Regions from separate parts of the Homo sapiens genome. Here region 2 is linked to region 1. A link means that fine-mapping ties the variant in region 1 to the expression of a gene that starts in the linked region. Tissue or cell type: whole blood. Region 1 holds a variant in brackets; the other region holds the start of a gene. All regions are shown on one strand. Distances are from middle to middle.

Region 1 (8,000 bases):
TGCAGCCCGAACCTCCCAGGCTCAAACAATCATCCTGCTTCATTCAGCCTCTTGAGTTGCCAAGACTACTGGCGTGGGCCACGTGCCGGCTACTTTTTTTTTTTTTTTTTTTTTTTTTTTGTAGAGATGGGGTCTCCCTATGTCACCCAGGCAGGTCTCAAACTCCTGGGCTCAAGCAGTCCTCTCACCTTGGCCTCCTAAAGTGCTGGGATTACAGGCATGAGCCACCACACCCGGCCCCATCTAATGAATTTAACGCTTTTTATTGTAGAGATTCCCCATCTGATAAACCATTATGTCCATCTTTTCTTTTAAATCTTGAAACATAACTTAAAAATATATATAAAGATGGGGTCTTGCCATGTTGCCCAAGCTGTTCTCACACTCCTTGGGTCAAGCGATTCTCCCTCCTCGGCCTCCCGAAGTGCTGGGCTTACAGGCGGGAGCCACTGTGCCCTGCCTGTGTTGTCTTTCTTTAAGCTTAGAGTCTTGGGTTTTATTCTCGCAGGTAGGTAATGAGCTTGTGCGTCAGCTTGGTCTGTTTGAAGCTTGTTTCTAAGCTTTGTTTGGGCAGCTCTCCAGCACCTCTAGAGAAGCTCCAGGGATAGAGCAGCCCAAGGCGTGTGGCCTCTCCAGGGCTTCAGTTGGAGTTTTGTGTCTTTGTGTCTTCGGTAAGGTCTTGCCACACTGGCTTTTTGGAAGTCCAGTATCTTTTAGCATTCCTCTAGAATTTGGGTTCAGCTCATAGTTTTGTTTTTTTTTTTTTGAGGCAGAGTCTCACTTTGTCTCCCAGGCTGGAGTGCAGTGGCGCACTCTCGGCTCACTGCAGCCTCCACTTCCCATGTTCAAGCAATTCTCCTGCCTCAGCCTCCCGAGTAGCTGGGATTACAGGTGCCCGCCACCATGCCCAGCTAATTTTTGTATTTTTAGTAGAGACAGGGTTTTGCCATGTTTACCAGGCTGGTCTTGAACTCCTGACCTCAGGTTATCCACCCGCATTGGCCTCCCAAAGTGCTGGGATTACAGGTGTGAGCCACTGCTGCCGGCGTCAGGTCATAGCTTCTTAGTAGCTGTTCTCTGCCAGGCCTTGTGACATCTTGCTTTGCACATGGCAGCCTAATTTGGCCAACGACTCAAGGAGGGCTCTGTCTAGATTTCTAGAGCCCCTTTGCTGTGGTGCTCCCTCCCCTCTGTGGGCTGCCCTGCAGACCCAGCTGCACTAGCGCCCCTGGACGTCCCGTCTCTGCCTCCTCGGCTCAGCAAGCTCCCGTGTGTTGCTCTGGCCCTGCCTCCCTGCACTGTGGCTGGGCAGAAAACAGGTGACTGTGGGGCCCATCTTATGTGGTCCCATGTCTTAGGCTCCTGTCTCTCAAGCTGCACTGCTTGTCTGACATCTGGAAACAACGGCTTCCCCTTCTTGTCCAGTTTCATCATTTGCATATGGAGGGAGGGCTGTTCAGACTAATTATCTGTCATGGCTGGAAGTTGACAGTTGGCCTCGTGTTTCTCTTTTGAAGTCAGCCGTCAGTTTTATTGTTGCTCTTTCAAAGAGAGCATGTCTTTTTTTCTTCTGGCAGGTTTTGGGACTTTTCTCTTTGTTTTTCAGCAGTTTTTCTGTCCCATTTTGGGGTGTGTGTGTGTGTGTGTGTGTGTGTGTGTGTTTGTGTGTTTTGAGACAGAATCTCACTTTGCCGCCCAGGCTGGAGGGCAGTGGTGTGATCTCGGCTCACTGCAACTTCCGCCCCCTGAGTTTAAGTGATTCTCCTGCCTCAGCTTCCTGAGTAGTTGGGATTACTGGTGCCTGCCACTGCGTCCGGCTAATTTTTGTATTTTTAGTAGAGTTGGGGTTTCACCATCTTGGCCAGGCTGGTCTTGAACTCCTGACCTCGTGATCCACCCGCCTCGGCCACCCAAAGTGCTGGGATTACAGGCGTGAGCCACCGCGCCTGGCCCTAAAATCACTCTCTTGAATTTACTGTATGTTCTAACTCCTGTTTCATTTCAGGGTCTATTTTAATGTTTTTCTCCATTTTTCTGCTGTTCTTTTATTGTAAGCTGGACATTGTGGACCCTGCAGTGTTGAAGATCAGTATTGTGTGGTCTTTTTTTTTTTTGAGAAGCAGTTTTGCTCTTGTTGCCCATGCTGGTGTGCAGTGGCGCGTTCTCGGCTCACCGCAACCTCCGCCTCCCAGGTTCAAGCGATTCTCCTACAGGCGTGCGCCACCATGCTGGGCTAACTTTTTGTATTTTTAGTAGAGATGCGGTTTCTCCATGTTTGTCAGGCTGGTCTCAAACTCCTGACCTCAGGTGATCGGCCTCCCAAAGTGCTGGGATTACAGGCGTGAGCCACCACGCCTGGCCGGGGTGTGTGTTTTTAACTTACCCTGTTGGGGTCTGTAGTGCTTCTTGATTATGTTGTTTGATGCCTCTGGTTAGTTTGGGAAATTTTTCAACTGTTGTCTCCGAATATTCATTTTGCATATTCCTTCCCTCCCTCTTGCCACCTCCCCCTGTGGCCAGTCACACACGCGTTAGGCCTTTCCGTTGTGTCTCTTTCCTGTGTTTTCCTTTTGTCTTTTCGTGCTCTAGTCTGGATATTTCCTTTTGAATAAACTTGCCATTAATTCTTCCCCCAGGAGCTGCAGAGGCTGGAGACAGAGTTGGGCCAACCCGCTGAGCGCTGGAAGGACACCTGGGACCGGGTGAAGGCTGCACAGCGCCTCGAGGGCCGGCCAGACGGCCGTGTGAGTGAGGGCCAGTGTGAGCGTCCACGGTGGGCGTGTTGCTGGGAGAAAGTGGAGTCTGTCCAGCCCTGACCCAAGTCCCAACCTCCTGTTCCCAGGGCACCCCTAGCTCCCTCCTTGTGTCCACCGCACCCCACCACCGTCGCTCGCTGGGTGTGTACCTGCAGGAGGGGCCCGTGGGCTCCACCCTGAGCCTCAGCCTGGACAGCGACCAGAGTAGTGGCTCAACCACATCCGGCTCCCGTCAGGCTGCCCGCCGCAGCACCAGCACCCTGTACAGCCAGTTCCAGACAGCAGAGAGTGAGAACAGGTATGAGGGCACCTCCCACTGCCACATGGACACCTCTGAGCTGGTGTTCTGGGGTCCCAGGCAGTCCTCTGGTGGGAGATTGCGGGTGCTTTTGAGGAGCTTGCTTAAGTATACACCACCACTGGGAGGGGTTTGGGGTGTCGAACTGGTGACCACAGCTGACCACAGCCTGCAGTGGCTGAGGGAGGAGTAGAGAGAGGGCAGTGGTGGGGCCCCCGTGAGTCTGGAGTCTGGCAGGATCCATCCCAGGCAGCTGCTGCCGTGGCTGCTTCTACAGATCTACCTGCCTGGCCATCCCTCTCCTCGTAAGGGCGCCTGCCCTGTGTAGGGGGCTGCTTTCCCAAGACCCTGAGGCTCTGGTGTGGGGATGCTCCCTGGAGTCTGGAGGGTGTGAGGCGCCCTTCACTGTCTCCTTTCTGGGCGTCGTCTTCTTGGGCCTGCAGCCCCCCATCAAAGGCTTCTTTGTGGCCCCCTGGCCAGTGCTCTGGGCTTAGGTCAGTTCTGGGGACAGGGTGCCTGGTCTTACCTCCTGGGCTGGGACAGCAAGGGGGGGACGACTGCTGGGGCCTGGGCTTGGCTGGGCCATGACGGTCAGCCTGGCCCTGGTTCTGCTGGAAATGCAGGTCCTACGAGGGCACTCTGTACAAGAAGGGGGCCTTCATGAAGCCTTGGAAGGCCCGCTGGTTCGTGCTGGACAAGACCAAGCACCAGGTGAGTGATCAGGTGGTGGGGGGGACTCACGGGGGAGGGGGCTCCGCTGACTCTGTGGCCTCCTCCAGCTGCGCTACTACGACCACCGTGTGGACACAGAGTGCAAGGGTGTCATCGACTTGGCGGAGGTGGAGGCTGTGGCACCTGGCACGCCCACTATGGGTGCCCCTAAGACTGTGGACGAGAAGGCCTTCTTTGACGTGAGCCTTGGCCGGGGCTTGGGAGAGGGGAGGGGCTCTGCGGTGTGGGGGCTGCGGAGTCAGTAACCCGCCCTTCCCCAGGTGAAGACAACGCGTCGCGTTTACAACTTCTGTGCCCAGGA[C/T]GTGCCCTCGGCCCAGCAGTGGGTGGACCGGATCCAGAGCTGCCTGTCGGACGCCTGAGCCTCCCAGCCCTGCCCGGCTGCTCTGCTTCCGGTCGTTACCGACCACTAGGGGTGGGCAGGGCCGCCCCGGCCATGTTTACAGCCCCGGCCCTCGACAGTATTGAGGCCCCGAGCCCCCAGCACTTGTGTGTACAGCCCCCGTCCCCGCCCCGCCCCGCCCGGCCGGCCCTAACTTATTTTGGCGTCACAGCTGAGCACCGTGCCGGGAGGTGGCCAAGGTACAGCCCGCAATGGGCCTGTAAATAGTCCGGCCCCGTCAGCGTGTGCTGGTCCAGCCAGCGGCTGCAGGCGAGTTTCTAGAACCAGAGTCTATATAAAGAGAGAACTAACGCCACGCTCCTGTGCCTGCCTTCCCCACTCCCCGGCTGCCTGCTCTCGGCCTACCCAGAGGGTCCCATCTGCCCCTATCCAGGCCCACCTGGCGGGAGGTTGGCATCTTTCTCGTGAGCCTCTCCTGGTGCCTGGGTCCACCCAGCTCGGCCTGCATGTCCCTGGGAGTGACTTTGCTCTGGGGGCGGATCGAGCAGGAGGCTTCACTGGGGACTTGCTTGATTCCCTCCACGCCTCAGGGCTGGTCTAGGGGCCGGCACGGCTGGAGAGGAAGCCCCCATCCCTACCCAGGGGATGCAGAAGCTGACCTCACAGAGGCTTGGGGGTGAAAGGGTGGGTGGTCATTTGACCCCAGAAGGCTGTTGCAGGTCCAGAGGACACTTGAGGTGGACGTCAGTTTCTGGCTAGACCCGAGCTGAAGGGATGGAGGCCGGAGGCGGGGGGGGGGGGGGGACAGTGGGCTCCCAGGGGAATGCAGGTTGACCACATCTGGCTCCTGCCAGGCAACGAGCAGCATCTGGCAGAGTAAGGGGCCAACGCCCATGGGGGATGGACCCTCTCAGTTCTTGGGAATTCTGCCCCAAAAGTCCTTTCCCTGGGGTCTCAGAGGGCCCCCGTCCTTCCCTTCTTGGTGTCACTGTGGCCCCTCACTGCTCTTTTCCTATTCAAACCTGAGTCCCACCAGGCCCAGGGCTTCACCTGCTGAGCTGTTGTGTCCTTGCCTGTGACGAGGCCTGGCCAGGGGTGCAGGAGCAGAAGGTGGGGAGGGTTATAGACGCTGCAAAGGCCAAGAGAACATCTGAGAGTGGCAGCTGGTGACCTGGCCAGAGGGGCTGGTGAGGGGCAGAGAACCTGGCTAGAGGCTGGGTCCCTCAGGTGGTCCTCTCAGGTGGGAGGCGAGCAGCAGGTGTGGGTGAGGGGAAGGTTCTGATGACAGCTGCAGAGGCAGGGCCCAGTGCTGGCAGGTGGGGGGCCAAGACCCTCCCCTGGTGGGACGTTGAAGCCAAGGATGGCCTTGGACCCTGTCAGGCCCAGCATGGTCCCGCCACCTCCCCCACCCCACAGGTGGTGTTGGGACACCTGGGCGAGATGTGAGGGTGGGCTCACTTGAGCCACTGAAACCAGCCAGGTCTTCCCTCAGGCCGGACAGATGGCGCCTGACCGAAGTTCCTGGCACCTGGAAAACCCACAGGTCAGAGTAAGGGGAGAAAGGACCCTGCCCTCCCTGTTCCACGTCTGTGGGGGGAGAGGACAAATGCCAGGCACAGGGTAGGCGGCGAGAACAAGGCACTCAATGTGTAGCTGGGGCAGAGACTCGGCCTCTGGGGAGCTGAGCGGGTTCCCTCCACCCCCAACCGTGGTGGAAAGACAAGCTCGCTGGGGCGGGGTGGGGGTCTGGTCTCCACCTGCCCCTCCCACTCAGCCACTGAGGACAAGGTGGGGCCCAGGCTTCTGGGAGGGGGAGCTGGCACAAAAGGAAGTCCTGGGGTTGATGTGTTTGAGCGTTAGGCGAAGTGGTTCCCCCCATCCCCCAAACGGAAAAATGTCAGTATTTGCTAAGCTGTAGAGACCTGATGCCGTGATGTGGCCTGTTCCGCCTCCACCCATTACACGGGGATAACGCTGGGGGGTGGCGGGCCCACAAAAGAGGTGCTGGAGGAGACTCTCCCACCCCTGGCCGGGCCGGGGCTTTGGGGCCGGAAGGTTCACAGTACGCGGTTTGTCCGAACGTCACGGCTTTTATTGGGAGTTGGGGGTTTGGGGTGCCCTGTCAGGTGATCAGAACATTAAAAATGGACTCAACGTAAAATAATCTTCTGGACCCTTCTAGGACGACATGGCCGTGACCGGTAGTGCTAGAAACCAGTCTTCGAGCCCCTAGTGCCACACCATGTCCCCCCACCTGCATACCTGTGGTCTCCCCCTGCCAGGCACCCTGTGCTGGGCACAGGGACATCCCTGCCAGGCCTAGAGGGCCTTGTGTTTTTAAGGCAGTCAAATCTTGCAGCCTGGTTCAGTGCCAGCTCCAAGGGCTATTGGGTAGCTGCAAGGGTCAATTATGCATTCCTGTGAGTCAGGTTTTTCCAACCCAGGCCCTTGACTCTGCCCTGAGCTTGCAGCTGGATACAAAGTGCAAAAAAGCTTGGCTCCTTCTGTATTCTTTAAAAACAAAACAACAACAAAAAAAAAACTGTAAAAACAGCCTCCATGTCCACGCCCTTCCTGGCCCATCAGGTCCTGGTGGCATCTCAGGGTCCTGCCCCCCCCACCCCCACCCCCACCCCGGCTCCTGCAGGCCGACCTTATTGCTGTGCTCTGGGCTTGGGGGCGGCTGAGGTGCCCCTCTGTCCTCCAGCAGGGCACGAGTGACCTGAGAGGCCCACTCAGGCAGAAGAGACGCAAGCTGGGCCGTCCAACTGGTTTCAACTGCCAGCTTTACCAATGCAGCATTTATTTTAAAATTAAATTAAATTAAAAAAAAAAAAGATTGCATCACCAGGTAGTTTTCTCGATTAAGGAGGCAGCCTGACCAGGGTGGGCCGTGGCCGGGCGGCAGCAGCATCACACTGGGCCATTTAAGGCAGCTCCTTCTGGCGGGGCATCTGTCTTCCTGCAGGAATGGGGTGGGGTTGGAACCGTGCGGGCTGCGGGCCCTGTCCACACCCCCTACCCCCACACTCAACCTGCTCACCCGTCCTTTGTCACTGTCCCCAGGGTGGCCACCATGGCTGGGGCTGCTGTGACTGCCATGATGGGCCCTAGGGGGACCGCCACGGCCAGTGCAGAAGAGACTGCTGGGGTGGGTATGGCGGGGCCAGCCTTGCTCAGTGCTGTGGTGATGGCCACAGTAGCCTCGGGGGGCACAGCCACGGCTGGGGCAGCAGTCACTTCCTTTGGCGCGGGGCAGGCAGGGCTTAACAGCCGGCTGTCAGCACACCCGACCCTGTGTGGCAAACATGGACTCCGGTTACGGGCACCCCCACCCTCAGTGCCACCCCGCCTCATGCCCAAGGACCAGCTGGACAAAAAGGTCCAGGCGGCCTGGGAGCACCATCTTTGGCCCCTCTCACTCCTGCCCTTTGTGGGGTGGCCCAGGTTGTGCCCAGCTAGGCAGCTCTGCTGCCCCAAGTTCCAAGTACTGGGACAAGCTGCCTGTCCATTGATGACCTCAAACCTCCTCCAGGCAGCACTCAGATCCTGCTCATCATCAAGCGCCTCATTCTTCAAGGACCCCAGAGCCTCCTGTGCTATGATCTCAACTTCAGCCTCACACTGGACACAGTCTGGGGAAACCTCCCAGGGGATGGGAGGGTAGAGAGGACCCTGCCGGGCATCTAAGGGGCTTGCTCTGGAGGGGGTCGGGCACCCCAAGGCCCAGCCTGGCCACGAGCAGCAGACGGGCCCCCTGGCTTCCTGCAGGGCGACGACACTGTGTCTGACTGAGGGAGGGGCACTCAGGTCAGGCGGGGGCGCGAGGAAGCTCACCTGCAGGCTGGGCCGTGACGACGGTGCAGGCAGGGCT
Region 2 (8,000 bases), 200 kb after region 1:
TTGGGGGCTCCGGGTAGGGCCTGTGTGGACCCGTGAGTTGGGGGCTCCGGGTAGGGCCTGTGTGGACCCTGTGGGCCCTGTGCAGGTGGCCAGGCTCAGAGTCCTAGATCCCCATCCCTGGGATGCAGGTCAGGTGAGGAGGATGGGAGGTCAGGGCAGCATGGGGCCGTGTGGCCTGGTGGAGATGACCTCTGGCTGGAGCTGGAAGTTGAAGGGAAGGGTGTTCCTGGCAGGCTCAGCACAGAGGCTGGCACAGAAGGAGCCGGGAGTGGTGAAAGGCAGCTGTGAGTCAGGGAACCAGGGCCCACTTAGCCCCTCCTGGCCCCCAGACCTGCTGCCCTTCCGCCATGTCCAGGCCAGAGACCTGGGCCACCCTGACACCCTCACCACGTCCGCTTGTCCCTAAGGCCTCTCTGCTCACACCTCCTGAATCTGTCCTTGCCTCTCCTTGCCCCATTTTTGTTTTTTGAGACGGAGTCTCACTCTGATGCCCAGGCTGGAGGGCAGTGGCACGATCTTGACTCACTGCAAGCTCCGTCTCCCGGGTACACACCGTTCTCCTGCCTCAGCCTCCCGAGTAGCCGGGACTACAGGCGCCCGCCACCAGGCCTGGCTAATTTTTTGTATTTTTAGTAGAGACGGGGTTTCACCGTGTTAGCCAGGATGGTCTCGATCTCCTGACCTCGTGATCCGCCCGCCTCGGCCTCCCAAAGTGCTGGGATTACAGGCGTGAGCCACCGCGCCCAGCCCTCTCCTTGCCCCACTTTAGGATCCCTCCCCCCTGGACAACTGTATACCCAAGACAGTCCCCAGGGCCTCGCCTGTCTCCCCCAGCCCCCGCTAAGCAGTCCAGACTCCAACCCCAACTGCTGGGGTCCATCATCCCCTATACCAGGGGCTATCCCCTCAACTTGGAGGGCTGGCCAAAGCCTGTGCAGCCTCAGGCTGGACTCAGAGAAGCCTCCCCAGCTCCCGCAGCTATGCTGCGGCCTGAGGCTGTGCTGGACCTGGCTTCATTTCTGCTCCAGGATGGCAGGCTGTGTCTTCTTCATGGCTGCATGACCAGCCTGGGGTGGGTGTGCCCGGGGAAAGTAGGTGTACACTGGGAGCCGTGCCATGTTTCAGGCCCTGTCCTGGCTCTGCCTCGGGTGCGGGACCTTGGTCCTCCACACTGGCTGGGTGGGGCTGGATGGGTTGAGATTCACATGTGCTCCTTACGACCACGGGTCCCTGGGTGCCCGCAGCAGGGCCTCCACCCTTCGCTGTGTGCATATTCGTGTGCTTATGAGTTTGGCTTTGTTTGATTAAAGGTTTCTGCTGCTAGAAAGATAACTTGAAAGCCATGGGCCATAGGATCCTCTCTGTAGTCCCCACCCACACAACTGTGGCTGAGGCCTCAGCTCTTAGGACAGACCGTGGTGGACATGTGGCCAAGCCCTGGCCACCTCCCCTTTCCCTGGAAAATCCAGATCTAGAGCAATGGCCTCTTCACACAAACCTTCTCTCAGTGGTTCAGACCACATTAGGATTAGAGAAGGGCCCCACGAGGCACCGCCAGGCGTGTCTGTGAGCGACTCCCAGGATGGAAGGCAAAGGCTGACCCCCCTCTCTGTTGTGCCCGCCCCCCCACCCCCGCCAGGTGTTACTTACAAAGAGGTGCTCAGCTTCAAGCCTCCCCGGCAGCTGGGGGCCAGGGTCTCCAAGGAGACGCCTCTGTGAAGATCTCTGGGCTCCGGGGTGGCAGTGAGGACCACCTTCACCTTCCACCTGAGAGGGGACTCTCGTTGCCACCTTGACCTTGGCTGGGGCTTGCATCCCAAGGCATCCATCAGAGCAGACGCCCGGGTTCCATGGACCCTCCTCCCCACGGCCATGCCTCTGCTCTTGGGCGCCCATCATGGAGGAGCACCTGAACTTTCTGGACAAGACCTCTGGCCGACCTGGGGATGGCCTCTGATCCCTGGAGCAGTGGCCCACTTGCCCGGTGCTCTCAGAAACCTCAGAGCTGGTGGGGCTCCAGATCAGGCCTTGGCCTCTGAGCCCTGCCTGCTCTGGGCCATGCAGAGGAAGGACAGAGGGTGGGCGCAGGGCACCAACTCAGGGACATCCCCTCTCCTGGGCGACGTCAGTGGACCTTCCTGCACCCCCAGCCTGGAATGTAAATCAGCTGTGTGGTGCCCGCGTGGCTGGAAGGAAATAGACCCTTTTGTAGCTCCCTGTTCTGGCTGTGCGTCCTCATGCCGGGTCCCACCTTAAGACCTCCGGGCCCTTGGCCTGCATGTAGAGGAGGCTGGCCTGATAGCTCAGACCCTTAGAGCCAGGAGGGGGGCCTGAGCATCCCATCTCTCCCAGGCCACAAAGCTGGTGCCCACTTCCCCCAGGCCTGTGCCAGTGATCTTCGAACCCCCACGTTAGGGCTTGGCCCCTCCCCTTTTACGGGGTGACCTGCTAATGGCTTAGACTCTAAGCCACTGTGTGTGGATCCTGAAGCCAGACCCAGGGGCAGGGCCTGATGGGGAGGAGTGTTAGGATCTACCCTAGCTCTCTGCATCCTCCAATGCCAGCAGGTCCCTGGGGGGAGGGGGCACGCTGGGCACGTTGAGACCCCTGTGGTGAAGTGGTGAGCGCCAGCCAGTCCCTGGGGGGACGGGGCACATTGGACATGTTGAGACCCCTCTGGCCCCTGTGGTGGATTGGTGAGCGCAGAGGGCTGGGTTTTATTCTTGATCAAACCTCTAGCCCCTACTACCCTGCTCCAGTGGTATCTTCGTGCCCAGGCCGCCCTCTGCAGGCCACTCGGTGTTTCCAAGGGTGGCGGCTGGAACACAGGCCATGGGCACCTCCAAACCTGTCCCAGGGCAGGGGTTACAGCAGAGAGACCAGTGAGGGGCAGGGCAGGGCAGGCCAGGTGTCCTCGGTGGACATGCCCACAGCTGGCCCAGCCAAAGTGGACCTGATGAGCTGCCACGACAGATGGGCCTTCTCTGCCCAGCGACCCTCATGCCTCTCCAGGGCATCCGGGCCTGGGGGACGTGATCGCCATCAGTTCCGGAGCCACGCTGACTTGTGGCATGGCTGCTGTCCACACTGGGCCCAAAGTGTGGGCCCATAGGTGGCCTGAGGACTGGGGGCCCCAAAATTCTGTGACCCAGCTGGATGTGAACTCCCGCGGGGGCAGGGTGTCCCCTGGGCTCCAGGGGGCCTCAGGTTTCCTCTCGGGCATCTTCCTCCGTGGCTGTGCCCGTGCCTCCTATCTTCCTCAGTCCCCCACCATGCTACCGCAACCCCGGTCCAGTGTCCCCACCTCCACCGACCTTGACTCTGCTCTTGGGCCAGGGGTCTTCTTGGAGCTAGAACCGGACTCACTCCCTCCTTAAACCTCGGGGGCGGTGCTGCGCCTCCATGCAGCCACGACCACCGCCCTGAGCCGGCCGCAGCGCCACCTGCCTCCCCGCGGGCTCCTCCCGCCTCGTGGCCTTTGCCCTGCAGACCCCTCGCCCCCCTCGCCTTTCACCCCAGGTCTTCCTGCGCCCGGGCCGGGTGGGCCTTGGGGCTGCGCTGGACCCTGACCCAGCTGGTGCAGAACGGGGCTCTCATGGGCAGGCTCGGCCACGGGCGTTCGGGTGGGGCTGCGGCGACCACTCGCCTAAGGCCGGGGGACCCCGCCCCTCTTGGAGGGGATCGGGGCGGGGCCAATGGGGAGGCGGAGCCGCAGCGCAGCTCCGAGGGCTGGCGGCTCGGGGCGCCGAGGCTTCCGCGCCCGCTGGTTCCTCGCTCCGGGGCGGAGCTCGCGATAGCGACCGGGAGCAGGGCGCGGGGCGGGACCCAGGTCCGAGGCGAGGAAGCCGGAAGCCAGGCGCGGGGAGCCTCCCCCTTCGACTGCAGCCTCGCTCCGTGCCTTCTGCGCGCCTGGGATCCCGGAGCCTGCCTAGGTTCTGTGCGCTCCCGCCCAGGCCGGTGCCCGCCGCCCGCCTGCGCCCCAGGCAGGTCCCAGGCCTCCGGCTGCTCCCGGCCGAAGGTGGGGACAGGCAGTGGCAGGCACCACTAGCGAGGGCGTTTGGGAACCCAGGGTGACCACGGCGCAGCCATGGGGACCGCGCTTGTGTACCATGAGGACATGACGGCCACCCGGCTGCTCTGGGACGAGTAAGTGGGACCTGGCCGAGGTGGGGTGCGGGGAGGGACCTCTGAACTGAGCTCCTCATCTGCCCCAGCCCCGAGTGCGAGATCGAGCGTCCTGAGCGCCTGACCGCAGCCCTGGATCGCCTGCGGCAGCGCGGCCTGGAACAGAGGTGTCTGCGGTTGTCAGCCCGCGAGGCCTCGGAAGAGGAGCTGGGCCTGGTGCACAGGTCAGGACGGGGGCAGGCCCCACGATGGGGGGCGGGGCGGGCAGCCCAGCTAGAAACCTAAGAACCTGGGCCTACCCCGAGCCTGCCAGCCTCGAATACAGAGCCTCTCCCTATGCACCTCGGGTGGGCTCACAGGCTTGAGGAAGTGACAGGGTGGCCACTCCCACCATGAATCCCAGGTCCCCGCCTCCCGCCCCCCTGCTCCTGCTGGTGACCCTGCCTCTCCTGCCTGCCCATCTGCATGCAGCCCAGAGTATGTATCCCTGGTCAGGGAGACCCAGGTCCTAGGCAAGGAGGAGCTGCAGGCGCTGTCCGGACAGTTCGACGCCATCTACTTCCACCCGGTGCGTGTCCCCGGACACACTCACCTGTGCAGACACACATGCACGTGCCTTTGAGCGTTCACAGCCACGGCCGCCAACCCCAGCCAGTGTCCCCTGGTCCATACACATGACATTGCCCTGCACACCTGCCTGCTGGCACTGCCAGAGCCTGGGGCTGGCCTGTTCTGCTCAGCAGCTGGTGTCTTGCAGCCTGGCACAAGTGTGGGTATGGCCTGCAAAGGGCAGCAGGGAAGGCAGGGGGCTCATCTGCGCCCCTGCGCCCACAGAGTACCTTTCACTGCGCGCGGCTGGCCGCAGGGGCTGGACTGCAGCTGGTGGACGCTGTGCTCACTGGAGCTGTGCAAAATGGGCTTGCCCTGGTGAGGTGAGAGCTGCCCCTTCCCCTGGCTGCTCCTCCGTGGGTGGCCCTGTGAGGGGCCAGGGCGACCCTGACGTGACCCAAATCCTACTCTCACGCCGTAGGCCTCCCGGGCACCATGGCCAGAGGGCGGCTGCCAACGGGTTCTGTGTGTTCAACAACGTGGCCATAGCAGCTGCACATGCCAAGCAGAAACACGGGCTACACAGGTGTGTGCCAGGCTGGCTGCAGGGGGGTGGGCCCAGGCCACACAGCAAGGGGCAGCGCAGGAGGCGAGAGAACCCAGCCAGCACCTTCCCATCCCTGGCCGGGCTCCTGGAGGTGGGAGGCCCTGCCCCTTTGCCACCAGCGCTGTCTGTACCCAGGATCCTCGTCGTGGACTGGGATGTGCACCATGGCCAGGGGATCCAGTATCTCTTTGAGGATGACCCCAGGTGAGCAGGGGTGCGGAAACCACCCTTCCCTGCAGCCCCAGTTTTTGGGTGCACAGCCTGGCCTGGGAAAATCCAGGGGTGAGATACAGACATGTGCTCAGGGGTCAGCGTTCTACAGGGAGCTGTAGAGCTGTTGAGGGTCCTGACCTTTGACCTCTGGCCCTGGCTGGCTGTTGGCAGCGTCCTTTACTTCTCCTGGCACCGCTATGAGCATGGGCGCTTCTGGCCTTTCCTGCGAGAGTCAGATGCAGACGCAGTGGGGCGGGGACAGGGCCTCGGCTTCACTGTCAACCTGCCCTGGAACCAGGTGCCCACCCTCAAGCCCCAGGTCCCCACCCAGCCCCCTCCCCCTGGGCCCCTCCCCTCCCCCACAGTTCACCCTCAAGCCCCAGGTCCCCACCCACCCCCTCCCCCGGGCCCCTCCCCTGCCCCACAGTTCAGGATGTAGCCTGGGATGTCCTGCCAGGTTGGGATGGGAAACGCTGACTACGTGGCTGCCTTCCTGCACCTGCTGCTCCCACTGGCCTTTGAGGTGACTGCACGGAGGGCTCCCCCAGGGCAGCCGGGTGGGAGGGGGACCTTGTGCCTGGAGTGCGCCAGTGAAGGCAGGAGGAGGGTTATGAGCTGTCCCACTCCTGTGTGGCTGGGGAAGGTGCTCAGGAGGGGATGGGATGGGCCTGGCTCGCCCTCACCTGGGCTCCAGCCCCTCTCTGTCGACCCTCCCCACTCCGGCCTGGCCTGTAGTTTGACCCTGAGCTGGTGCTGGTCTCGGCAGGATTTGACTCAGCCATCGGGGACCCTGAGGTGAGGGCCTTGCCTTGCCAGGGAGGGCTTCTGGGGTCCTGGGGCCCAGGTCCCCCATCACACATGGCTCTGGTTCCAGGGGCAAATGCAGGCCACGCCAGAGTGCTTCGCCCACCTCACACAGCTGCTGCAGGTGCTGGCCGGCGGCCGGGTCTGTGCCGTGCTGGAGGTGACTGGGGAGGGCACACAGGGAGGGTCTCTGGGCCAGAGGCCTGGGGGTCAGGAGCATGGGAGCCAGGTGCCCACGGGGTATTTGGGAGGGGCGTCCTGCCCGGGATAGAGCCAGGCAGGGGCTCTCCCGGTGACATCCCATCCCAGTGATATCTCTGCCCCAATCATGTCTCCACCCTCCTCCCAGGGCGGCTACCACCTGGAGTCACTGGCGGAGTCAGTGTGCATGACAGTACAGACGCTGCTGGGTGACCCGGCCCCACCCCTGTCAGGGCCAATGGCGCCATGTCAGAGGTGCGAGGGGAGGTAGGGCGGGCAGGGCCGGGGTGTGAGACCAGGTGTCACGACTGTTGTGTCTCCCTCACAGTGCCCTAGAGTCCATCCAGAGTGCCCGTGCTGCCCAGGCCCCGCACTGGAAGAGCCTCCAGCAGCAAGGTCAGTGTGGCCGGGTGCTAGGCTGCAGGATCCCACCTCGGGCTCCTGTGCAGTGGCTATGACTCCGAACTGTCCCTAGATGTGACCGCTGTGCCGATGAGCCCCAGCAGCCACTCCCCAGAGGGGAGGCCTCCACCTCTGCTGCCTGGGGGTCCAGTGTGTAAGGCAGCTGCATCTGCACCGAGCTCCCTCCTGGACCAGCCGTGCCTCTGCCCCGCACCCTCTGTCCGCACCGCTGTTGCCCTGACAACGCCGGATATCACATTGGTTCTGCCCCCTGACGTCATCCAACAGGAAGCGTCAGCCCTGAGGGAGGAGACAGAAGCCTGGGCCAGGTGGGCAGGGCTGGCCTGGGGAGAAGGATGGGGCCGCATCTACACCTGTGCCTGTGTGTGCCTGACCTGCGGTCACTCCGTGTCTGTGTGTCCCTCTGGTCTGTCCACCACAGGCCACACGAGTCCCTGGCCCGGGAGGAGGCCCTCACTGCACTTGGGAAGCTCCTGTACCTCTTAGATGGGATGCTGGATGGGCAGGTGGGAGCACCTGGGAGGGGTTGGGGATGCTGTGGACCTAGGGGCAGGGACCAGGACCTGCCAACGAGATGTGGCCTGTCCAGAGGAGGGCTGGGTGGTGCAGAACCACATGGATGTGAACATTGCCTTGTGCCAGGAACTGTTCCCAGAACAGCCCCAGGGGTGGGGATCACTAGTGTGTCTGACCTCTGACCTCAGCTTCTTCAGTTAAATGCTCTTTGGCAGAGAGGTGAAGGGGGTGATTTAAAGTATACATTTAGGCAGGGTGCAGTGGCTCATGCCTGTAATAACGGCAGTTTGGGGGGCCAAGGTGGGAGAAACGCTTGAGCCCAGGAGTTCAAGACCAGCCTAGAGAACATATGGAGACCCTGTCTTCACAAAAAATAAAAAAGTCAGCCAAGCGTGGTGGTGTGTGCCTGTAGTTACTTAGGAGGCTGAGGCAGGACGATCGCTTAAGCCCAGGAGTTTGAGGCTGTGGTGAGCTACAATTGCGCCACTGCACGCCAGCCTGGCTACAGAACGAGACCCTGCCTCTCTAAAAAAAAAAAAAAAAATTATAGACGTAAGCATCT

Evidence for each region. PIP is the estimated chance that this variant, and not a neighbour inherited with it, causes the effect.
Region 2: it holds the start of HDAC10, and the variant in region 1 is fine-mapped to the expression of HDAC10 in whole blood (INTERVAL, PIP 0.96).

What each region holds. Positions count from the first base shown.
Region 1 is chr22:50,443,287-50,451,286 of GRCh38, reverse strand. It overlaps PPP6R2 (protein phosphatase 6 regulatory subunit 2), which reads right to left. Exons shown (of 24, transcript NM_001242898.2): 23 at 7,170-7,421; 24 at 6,197-7,088. The coding sequence ends at 7,040. SBF1 (SET binding factor 1) reads left to right here. Exons shown (of 41, transcript NM_002972.4): 37 at 2,637-2,744; 38 at 2,843-3,054; 39 at 3,678-3,765; 40 at 3,834-3,965; 41 at 4,047-6,287. The coding sequence ends at 4,145. Among named protein-coding and RNA genes, the nearest start is that of SBF1, 28 kb to the left of the region's middle. RefSeq lists enhancers at 5,840-6,686, 7,065-7,234. The variant C/T (reference allele first, on the strand shown) is at 4,088.
Region 2 is chr22:50,247,120-50,255,119 of GRCh38, reverse strand. It overlaps HDAC10 (histone deacetylase 10), which reads left to right and starts at 3,855. Exons shown (of 20, transcript NM_032019.6): 1 at 3,855-4,146; 2 at 4,215-4,349; 3 at 4,597-4,693; 4 at 4,960-5,057; 5 at 5,156-5,260; 6 at 5,417-5,485; 7 at 5,666-5,792; 8 at 5,952-6,017; 9 at 6,230-6,289; 10 at 6,369-6,458; 11 at 6,648-6,754; 12 at 6,828-6,895; 13 at 6,975-7,230; 14 at 7,344-7,428. The coding sequence starts at 4,088. It overlaps MAPK12 (mitogen-activated protein kinase 12), which reads left to right. Exons shown (of 12, transcript NM_002969.6): 12 at 1,640-2,219. The coding sequence ends at 1,719. RefSeq lists enhancers at 2,840-3,009, 4,664-5,510, 6,856-7,295, 6,668-7,590 and a silencer at 3,500-4,159.